Linked DNA regions of Homo sapiens. The protein of the gene in region 2 purifies or fractionates together with the protein of the main gene of each other region. This does not show direct contact. Each region holds a gene or a part of one and is shown on either strand. Other genes may lie near its edges.

Evidence for each region.
Region 1: the proteins of NEO1 (region 2) and TBC1D9 fractionate together in Homo sapiens (co-fractionation; one large-scale study listed by BioGRID). This does not show direct contact.

The regions. Positions count from the first base shown.
Region 1 is NC_000004.12:140,679,672-140,683,498, forward strand, and holds part of TBC1D9 (TBC1 domain family member 9), read right to left. Parts: intron 173-3,827; coding exon 1-172. UniProt on the Homo sapiens protein: May act as a GTPase-activating protein for Rab family protein(s).
Region 2 is NC_000015.10:73,055,445-73,059,271, reverse strand, and holds part of NEO1 (neogenin isoform 1 precursor), read right to left. Parts: intron 1-3,827. UniProt on the Homo sapiens protein: Multi-functional cell surface receptor regulating cell adhesion in many diverse developmental processes, including neural tube and mammary gland formation, myogenesis and angiogenesis.

The DNA.
Region 1 (3,827 bases), on a different chromosome or scaffold from region 2:
AACCCTGACGGGGGACCTTCCCCTTCCAATAGCTGCAAGAGTAATAGTTGACGAGTTTCTCTTCCTCTGGCATCCCAAACAGCCTATGAAATTTCACAATGGCTTCTTTAAACTTCTCCGTGTCATCATCTTCCTTTACATCATTGATTTTGTTGTATTCTGCAATGATGCCCTAATAAGGAATAAAACACAAAGCACACAACTGGTATTAATATGACTAGAGATGTACATATTCCAGAAGAAAAAATTTCTAAGGCTAGAATTAAAAAAAAAAATTGAGGAATGCCCTTCAATGGCAACCCCCAAATTCTAAGCCAATTATTGAGTAGTATTTGTGTACTAAAATATTTTCACATAATATAGATTTTATTATATTTTTATTGGTGCTAATTTTATTTTGTTAAGTTTACTAGGAATGAAGCCTATAGTTTTACTTTACAAATGAAGAGATACAAAGATTTTGCTAGTCCTAGTGTTTTTACTAAGCTTATTATGGTAGAATTGTCTCAAAAGTCAACTTCTGCCTTTCTCCAAGATTAATAAAAATTCATCATGAATGAGCCAGTGAGGAAAGAAAGACCAAACACATGTCACCAACTGACACTCAGCTCCACACTCACTGTCTCAGGGCCATGAATAACACTGGGGAGCCTACAGGGAAAAACGAGTAATCATCTGAGCAGAAAAGGGGTAGATATGAGAGCAAAAATTATATTAGATGCAGGATTTTTGGACAGTTAGACAGGAAATGAAACATCTGCATAGCAAGTGACCAGGTTAATCTACCATTCAATCATTATAATAACTTGAGAAGCCATTTCACTGTTACCCAGTTCCTCTGTAATTCCCTGAAAATTGGCTTCTACATATATCTCGATGGAAAATGCTCCCTTGAATTCCACCTTTGACTTTGTAATCCTCAAATCCCTCCCGCCTCATCTTCATTTTCTCTGATCTCAAGGTAGAACTGAAAATGCATGACCTTTAGAGCATGCAAGTCTTAGATTCGTGCTCCCACCGCATCACTGTATCTGTGTAGCCTTGGCCAACTTCTCAGATTCTCATTGACATGACTGAGCTCTCTGTAGCCCAAGGATAGAAAATTGCAACTGCCTCCTCATACCTAGAATTCCTGCTTTTTGGGCTCTTAAAGCTTCTAGTGCATCCTTGATGCTCCCTAAAAATTTGTCTTCCTAAAATGGATTTGACCACAAAATTCTTACCAAAATACTTAGTGGTTTCTAACCACCACCAGTATAAAGTCCAAAAATCTAGATCATGTACACTTTGTTTGTTTTAATGTTTTAATTTTTATTTTTATTGCAGACTGGCTGCTCCTTGTGAAGCAGGGTAACCCACAGGCAGTGTGCCCAGAGTAGCCTAGACCCATGTACATTTTTGGATCCAACCAATGCCGCAACTTTTTCTCACTGGACTACATCCTACCCAAATGTCCCGTTAGTAACTGTGCTCCAGCCAGCCTGAGGCACCCTTGGGGCCTGAACATGTCATTTCTGCACTTTCCCACCTTTTTGCCTATGGCCCTCCCATTCTACATGCCTGAAATCTGGAATCAGACTGTTCTGTTTCGTGAATCCTACCAAGTCTCAAAGTCTCTTGTGAGCCTTTTCTCAACTATCATTCTTTTCCCCCCACATGAAGTAATGTTGATTCTCTCTGCATTATGTATTGAAATCATTTCCTGAGTCTTATTTCCACTGCAGACCTTTCACCCTGTTGCCGGTAGTTGTGATGCTGCTGAGTGGATGGCAGGAGAAAGGGCTTCAGTCTTCTATAATCTCTGTCACTGTCCTATTCTAGTTAAAAGTAAGCATGTAGACAATAATCATAACAGCAAATGGTGGGCTTACGATGCAAGCACAGCCCCAAGACAAGTCTTTATCCTATTCTTCTAACAAAAGCATCCCAAAGTCCCTCTACACAGTCCAGGAATTACTATATAATAGCTTCTCAAATGGCATCCTGACAACACTCTCCACACTCCAATTTACTTCACATGGCCACTTTCTGAAACAGAGATCTGACTACAGTATTCCCACCTTATAATCTTCCACAGGCTCTCAGTGAAAGAGAAAAGAAATCTGCACTGAATCTTAACCCATAAAATCTGCTCTCAATCTTCCCAAGTCAACCTTTCCAGGTCCAGCATAAATACCACCTTCCCTGTGAAACCAGCCCAATTCCAAATGGGTTCTAAGCATTCTCACGTCTATGTTGTCTTAATTTACATGCTGGCAGAAAATAGCATGTTTATATGTCCTTCTACCACTAAATATGAATTCCAAAGATAAAAAGAATGTCTCGAACATTTTAATCACCAATATCTAGCACCTAAAAGATGTTCAATATTACTAAATGAATCCATGTTGTTGTTTTTCCAAATTAAAAGATATCTTAAGGGGCCATATCTTAGTCTTTATTGTATAATCCAGAGTTGCAGATTTCTAAATCTACAATTGTTTTGGAGTTAGCAATGCCTGAGAAATTAGGTACCAAGTTGCTAACTTCTGTTCCTCTGTCATACTGGAGGGCATTATGGATAGCAATAGAAGTAGCAATGTGCTTCCCTGGAAAAATATCTAACATAAGGATATTTTCCTCTATTTACCACTGATATCACTCTACCAAGAGAACAAAGACATTAAGCTCGATGAAGGCCAGGAGGGAGCTCAATTTTGGACCCAGGCTATTCTAGGGACAAGCAGGCGTTGGTAGTGTTACTTTAAGAACTTCAGACAACTGAAGGCAGCATGAGGGCATGGGACCCGTGGGTGGGAAGGAGAAGTCAATTCAGAAGGGAAAAGGGATGAAAAATGCCTTTCGCAGTTGGCAAATACACCTGTGGCCTATGTGACATTTCAAAGTTGTCAGTGCCTTTAGAGAAGGATCAAAAAATATCTATGAATGAAAGATTAAATAAATGAATGAGTAAATAAAAATAACTGAATGAGAACCTGCTAACAGAAAGCAGCAGCTGGGCCTCCAGGGAATCACCAAAGGCTAACAACTTAGAGAAGCCTGGAGACCCTCAAGTGGGCTAACATGCTATTCTCCTGGGTCACTGTAGTAGCGCTCTTACCTAAAGTCAAAATGAGGAGAATGTGAGAATGAGTGACATATAACAAACCATAAGCAGAAGTATGCTATCTAAAGATCTATTAAATACCACATTTCTAGAGTGCTCACTGAATTTATTTATTTATTTATTTTCGAGATGGAGTTTTGCTCTTGTTGCCCAGGCTGGAGTGCAATAGCTCGATCTTAGCTCACTGCAACCTCCATCTCCTGGGTTCAAGTGATTCTCCTGCCTCAGCTTCCCGAGTAGCTGGGATTACAGGCATGCACCACCACGCCTGGCTAATTTTTTTGTATTTTTGATTTCTGCATGTTGGTCAGGCTGGTCTCGAACTCCTGACCTCAGGTGATCTGCCTGCCTCAGCCTCCCAAAGTGCTGGGATTACAGGTGTGAGCCACCGCACCTGGCCTGCTCATTGAAATTTTAAAGAGAAAATGCTTTTATATATGAGAGTAAATACAGTCAAGAACCATCACTCAGAAACACTCTAGGGTCTAATATACTAGTATCAAGAGACAAGGCTTTGCCAGCTCATTTCAACAGTAAGGCTAATAGTCTCCATAAGGCTAAAATACCAACTTTCTCAACACTAAAAAAGGAAATAATCCAGAATGTAGAACCCTTTCTTAGTTGGCTATAATTTTTTAGCCAGGTAGACTAGATTATGGAATACAGGGATAGAATAGCTCCTTCCCAGGTTCTACAGGTTTTTCTACAGGTTTCGCATAAT
Region 2 (3,827 bases):
AACATATATAACCACCATACCTCTCTGCCTTTTCTTTATGTAAAGGGGTCAGACAGGGAATCAAAACCTGTTTACATAAGCCAGCTCTGTAACCTGGTCAATTTACTCTACATCCCTTCCAAGCCTAAGAGTAAGCATCTAATATTTCTGGTAATACTGTATCTTAAAATACCTCACAATTACTTAACACTGAAGCCATATAACTCAGCCCTAAAGCTATTTTTACACATATAAAATAAAATCATATACAATCATTTGCAAGTAACATAGACGATTTTCCAATCATATCCTACTTTGCACTACAAAAAAAAGATATACAATAACCTGAGCTTTAGCGAATGAAAAAAAGGTGACTTTTGCATCTGAAAACCAGAAATGACCAGTGTTGGAACACAATAACTGAATAGAAGTTATTAAGCTGAAATAAACCCACTGTTCCATTTTATGGACTTCAGAGTAAGAGAAACCTGGAAGGCAGAAGGGACCTTTGAAATTACTTATTAATTAGCTTAACCTTTCAGTTAACAGATGAACTTGCATTTTAAAACATGGCCTTAAGTACCCAAAGTTCACAATTAAAAGTGGTAAAACCTTCAAAAAGTTATGAAAGTATTAGTCAATGGAATTATTCTTAATGACATCATTACTTTTCTGCAATAAATGGAACCCTGACCCCCACATACACACACAAGTTAACTTTTCACCAGCAATCCTATATGGGGGAATCCAAAATATAGAAAGAATATGTTCATCACAGCATTCTTTATCACAGCAAAACAGTAAAAACAACTTCCATATCCATAACAGGAGAATACACAATTAGCAGCAGAATGCAGAGGAATAAAGAACATAGGCTTTGAAGTTGCAAAAACCTGGATTCCAATGCCAACTCTTGCACATGAAAGGTTGTGAGACCTTCGGCAAGGCACTTAATATCTGAGACTCAGTTTCCTCATCTGTGGAATGTGAAGAAATTGTCATCTTCCTCACAGGACTGTATAAAAGATTAAATACATGTGAAAGAGCATGGCACAATGCCTGGAAGTCAGGGAGTGTTCTGTAACTACTACTTTAATTAGCCACTATTATTATATTTGCTCCCTGGAATATTACACACACATTTTAAATAATGGTTATAGGAAAATCTGTATGTACTGGCATGGAACGATCTCCAACATACTAAGTGAAAAAGCAAGTTGAAAAAACAATAGGTAGTATGATCCTGCTTATCTGTAAAAAAATAAAACCATACACACATATGCACATGCAAGGGAAGATATTAAAAGGGGTTACTTATGGGTTTCAAAAATGGAATTTGTGGGTAGAAGTGATAAAATCTTTTATTCTATGTATTTTTATATTGTTTGACTGCAAACAAACATATATTTATGTATTTTTAAATAAGTTTTTAAAATAAAATGATTTAAAGATAATGTGACAACAAAGAAAAATGGTATAATGTCAAAGGAAAACATTTCAAGTTATACATACACCATGATTACAATGTAAAAAGATAATGTGCCATATAGGCAGTAAGTAGAAAGAAATATACCAAAATCATACCAGTGGGTCTGAATGCCTTTTTTTGTCACTATTTACAAAATTTTTGAATCAAAAAAACTCTCTTCATTCTAAATGAATCCAAAATTTGAGCTCTATTTTAAAATCATCTTTCACTAGCTATGTCCATGACAAAGTTAATTTTTCAAAATCGTAAACACAAAACTTCTCCTCACTTCACTTAGCTCTCCGGTCAATATGATCTTACCTACAGTCATTTCCTCTGACTGTTCTCCAATTATTGATGCAATTTTACCCAGAAACCTAAACACTTACCAATGATATGGTAAATAGCTCCCAATCACATGGAAGTCACTAATAAAATAAAGTGTTTGGAAAAAAGACTATTAAATACAGCCTCCATATAATGAGATTTATTAAGGTTACCCCAATATTTTCATTGAGGTAGAGAAAAACTCATAAGGAAGAAACCAGCAATGATCAATTAAGCCAAAAGAAAAAAAAGTCTACACTTTCAAATAATTTAATATAGTATATTTTTAGAGTTCACAAAGAAACACTGAAGCCATTCTACATAGGTACAGTACTTTATAGTTTATGAACAATTTTACATTTTATTTTTCTGACAATCCAGTTAGGTAGGTAAGGTATTATTCTTGCCTGCCTATATCCCCCAACTTACAGATGTATGTGAAGTTGCAGAACCACAAGTCATACCCCATATCCTCTGCCTTCATGTATGTCTTTTCACTATCTCACATCATGTATTAATTTTCATACAGTTTATGAAAATCAGTCATATTTCTTATCTTCTTTGAGCATTCATCCCAGAATTCTATGATCTCTTTTGTGCCTCATTCTAACAGACAGGCAGAGCAACGCCATCAGTCTTTTCTTTTAGATGACTCAGTAAGATCAAAGATCTTTCCAAAGATGACAAAACTAAAAAAACGCTAAAACTACAGCATATCCAGGAGGATGACCAAGATCACAAAAGATCTGGAAACTAAGTAATGTGAAGAGTGGCTGAAGGAATTAAGGATGGTTAACTTAAAAAGGATAAGGTTTGAGGGGAAGGGCAGGGGGGGCCCACACACACATGCACACAGGAAATGTGATTAGACACATGAAGGGCCATCATATAAAGGAATCAGATTTGTGCTGTATGGCCCTACGGGTTAAAAACAAAGGCAATTCAACATTCAGTCAACAAACATTTACTGGTTATCTTCTCTATGCTACATGTTAGTGCTACACTAGGGAAACAAAGGTGAATAAGACAACCCGGCCAACCCCTTCAGAGGTTGAGACTAGCAGAAAAGACAAGAAAATAAGTAACAGAAGATGAAAAGTACTCAGGAAGCTATGGGAACACAGAATAGTGACCATAACTCTCTTTGGAAGAGAAAGCTGGTAGAGAAAAATTCATTGACTAGATAAGGAGTTTCAGAAGTGGACAAGGTGAGAAGTGACTTAACAGAAAGAACAGCATGTGCAAAGGCACGGAGATCTGAAGCTGTGTCGTTAATCTGGAGTGGTGGAATGCAAGGTGCATGTTAGGGGTGACAAGAGATGAGGCTTTATTGGGTTTGGGAGAACAGAGGTAAAGAATACAAAGGGCCTCACAATCTCCATGCCAAAGAGTTCTAACACCCAAGCTACAGAACACTAGTAACAGATTTTAAGTAGGAGAGTGGCATGCTCAGGAAAATATTTCAGGAAGCTCATTCTAGCAGGACAGACTTCTAGAGGGTAACAGTACAGACAAAGAGATTAATTATGGAGCCACTACTGTTAGTCCAGGTGGGGATGAAGATGAAAAGATACCGATTCAGAGTCAAGAAACAGCTGAGAGGTAAAAAGCAAAAAGAACTATCCGCTATGGCAATGGGAAGAGGAGGTCTTCTTGATCTCAGCTTGGGCAAGTGGATGAACAGTGATGACCAAGACAGGCAACACAAGAAGACAAATCCATGCAATCCTTCCAACAACATGAGACACAGGGGCCAGGAACTGGTTTGTTCATGTTTAGAGAATGGGGATGAAGGAAGCACGAGGGAAAATGACACAGAGTTTAACTTCGGACTTCAGTAACCTAAGATCCTATTTAGTGAAGGTACCGAGTGGCAAGTGAGAAAGTGTGGACTAAGAGAGTCCTTAGCTTACAGGTGGCAACTGAGGGCAAACAGAGTATGTATAATGAGATAAGCTTTAGATACTAATATTTAAGTGAGTGAGTTCAAGAAAAGCCAGAAAGACAAATGAAGAATTAATCAGAGAAGAGATTAACCTGAAGATAGAGTAAT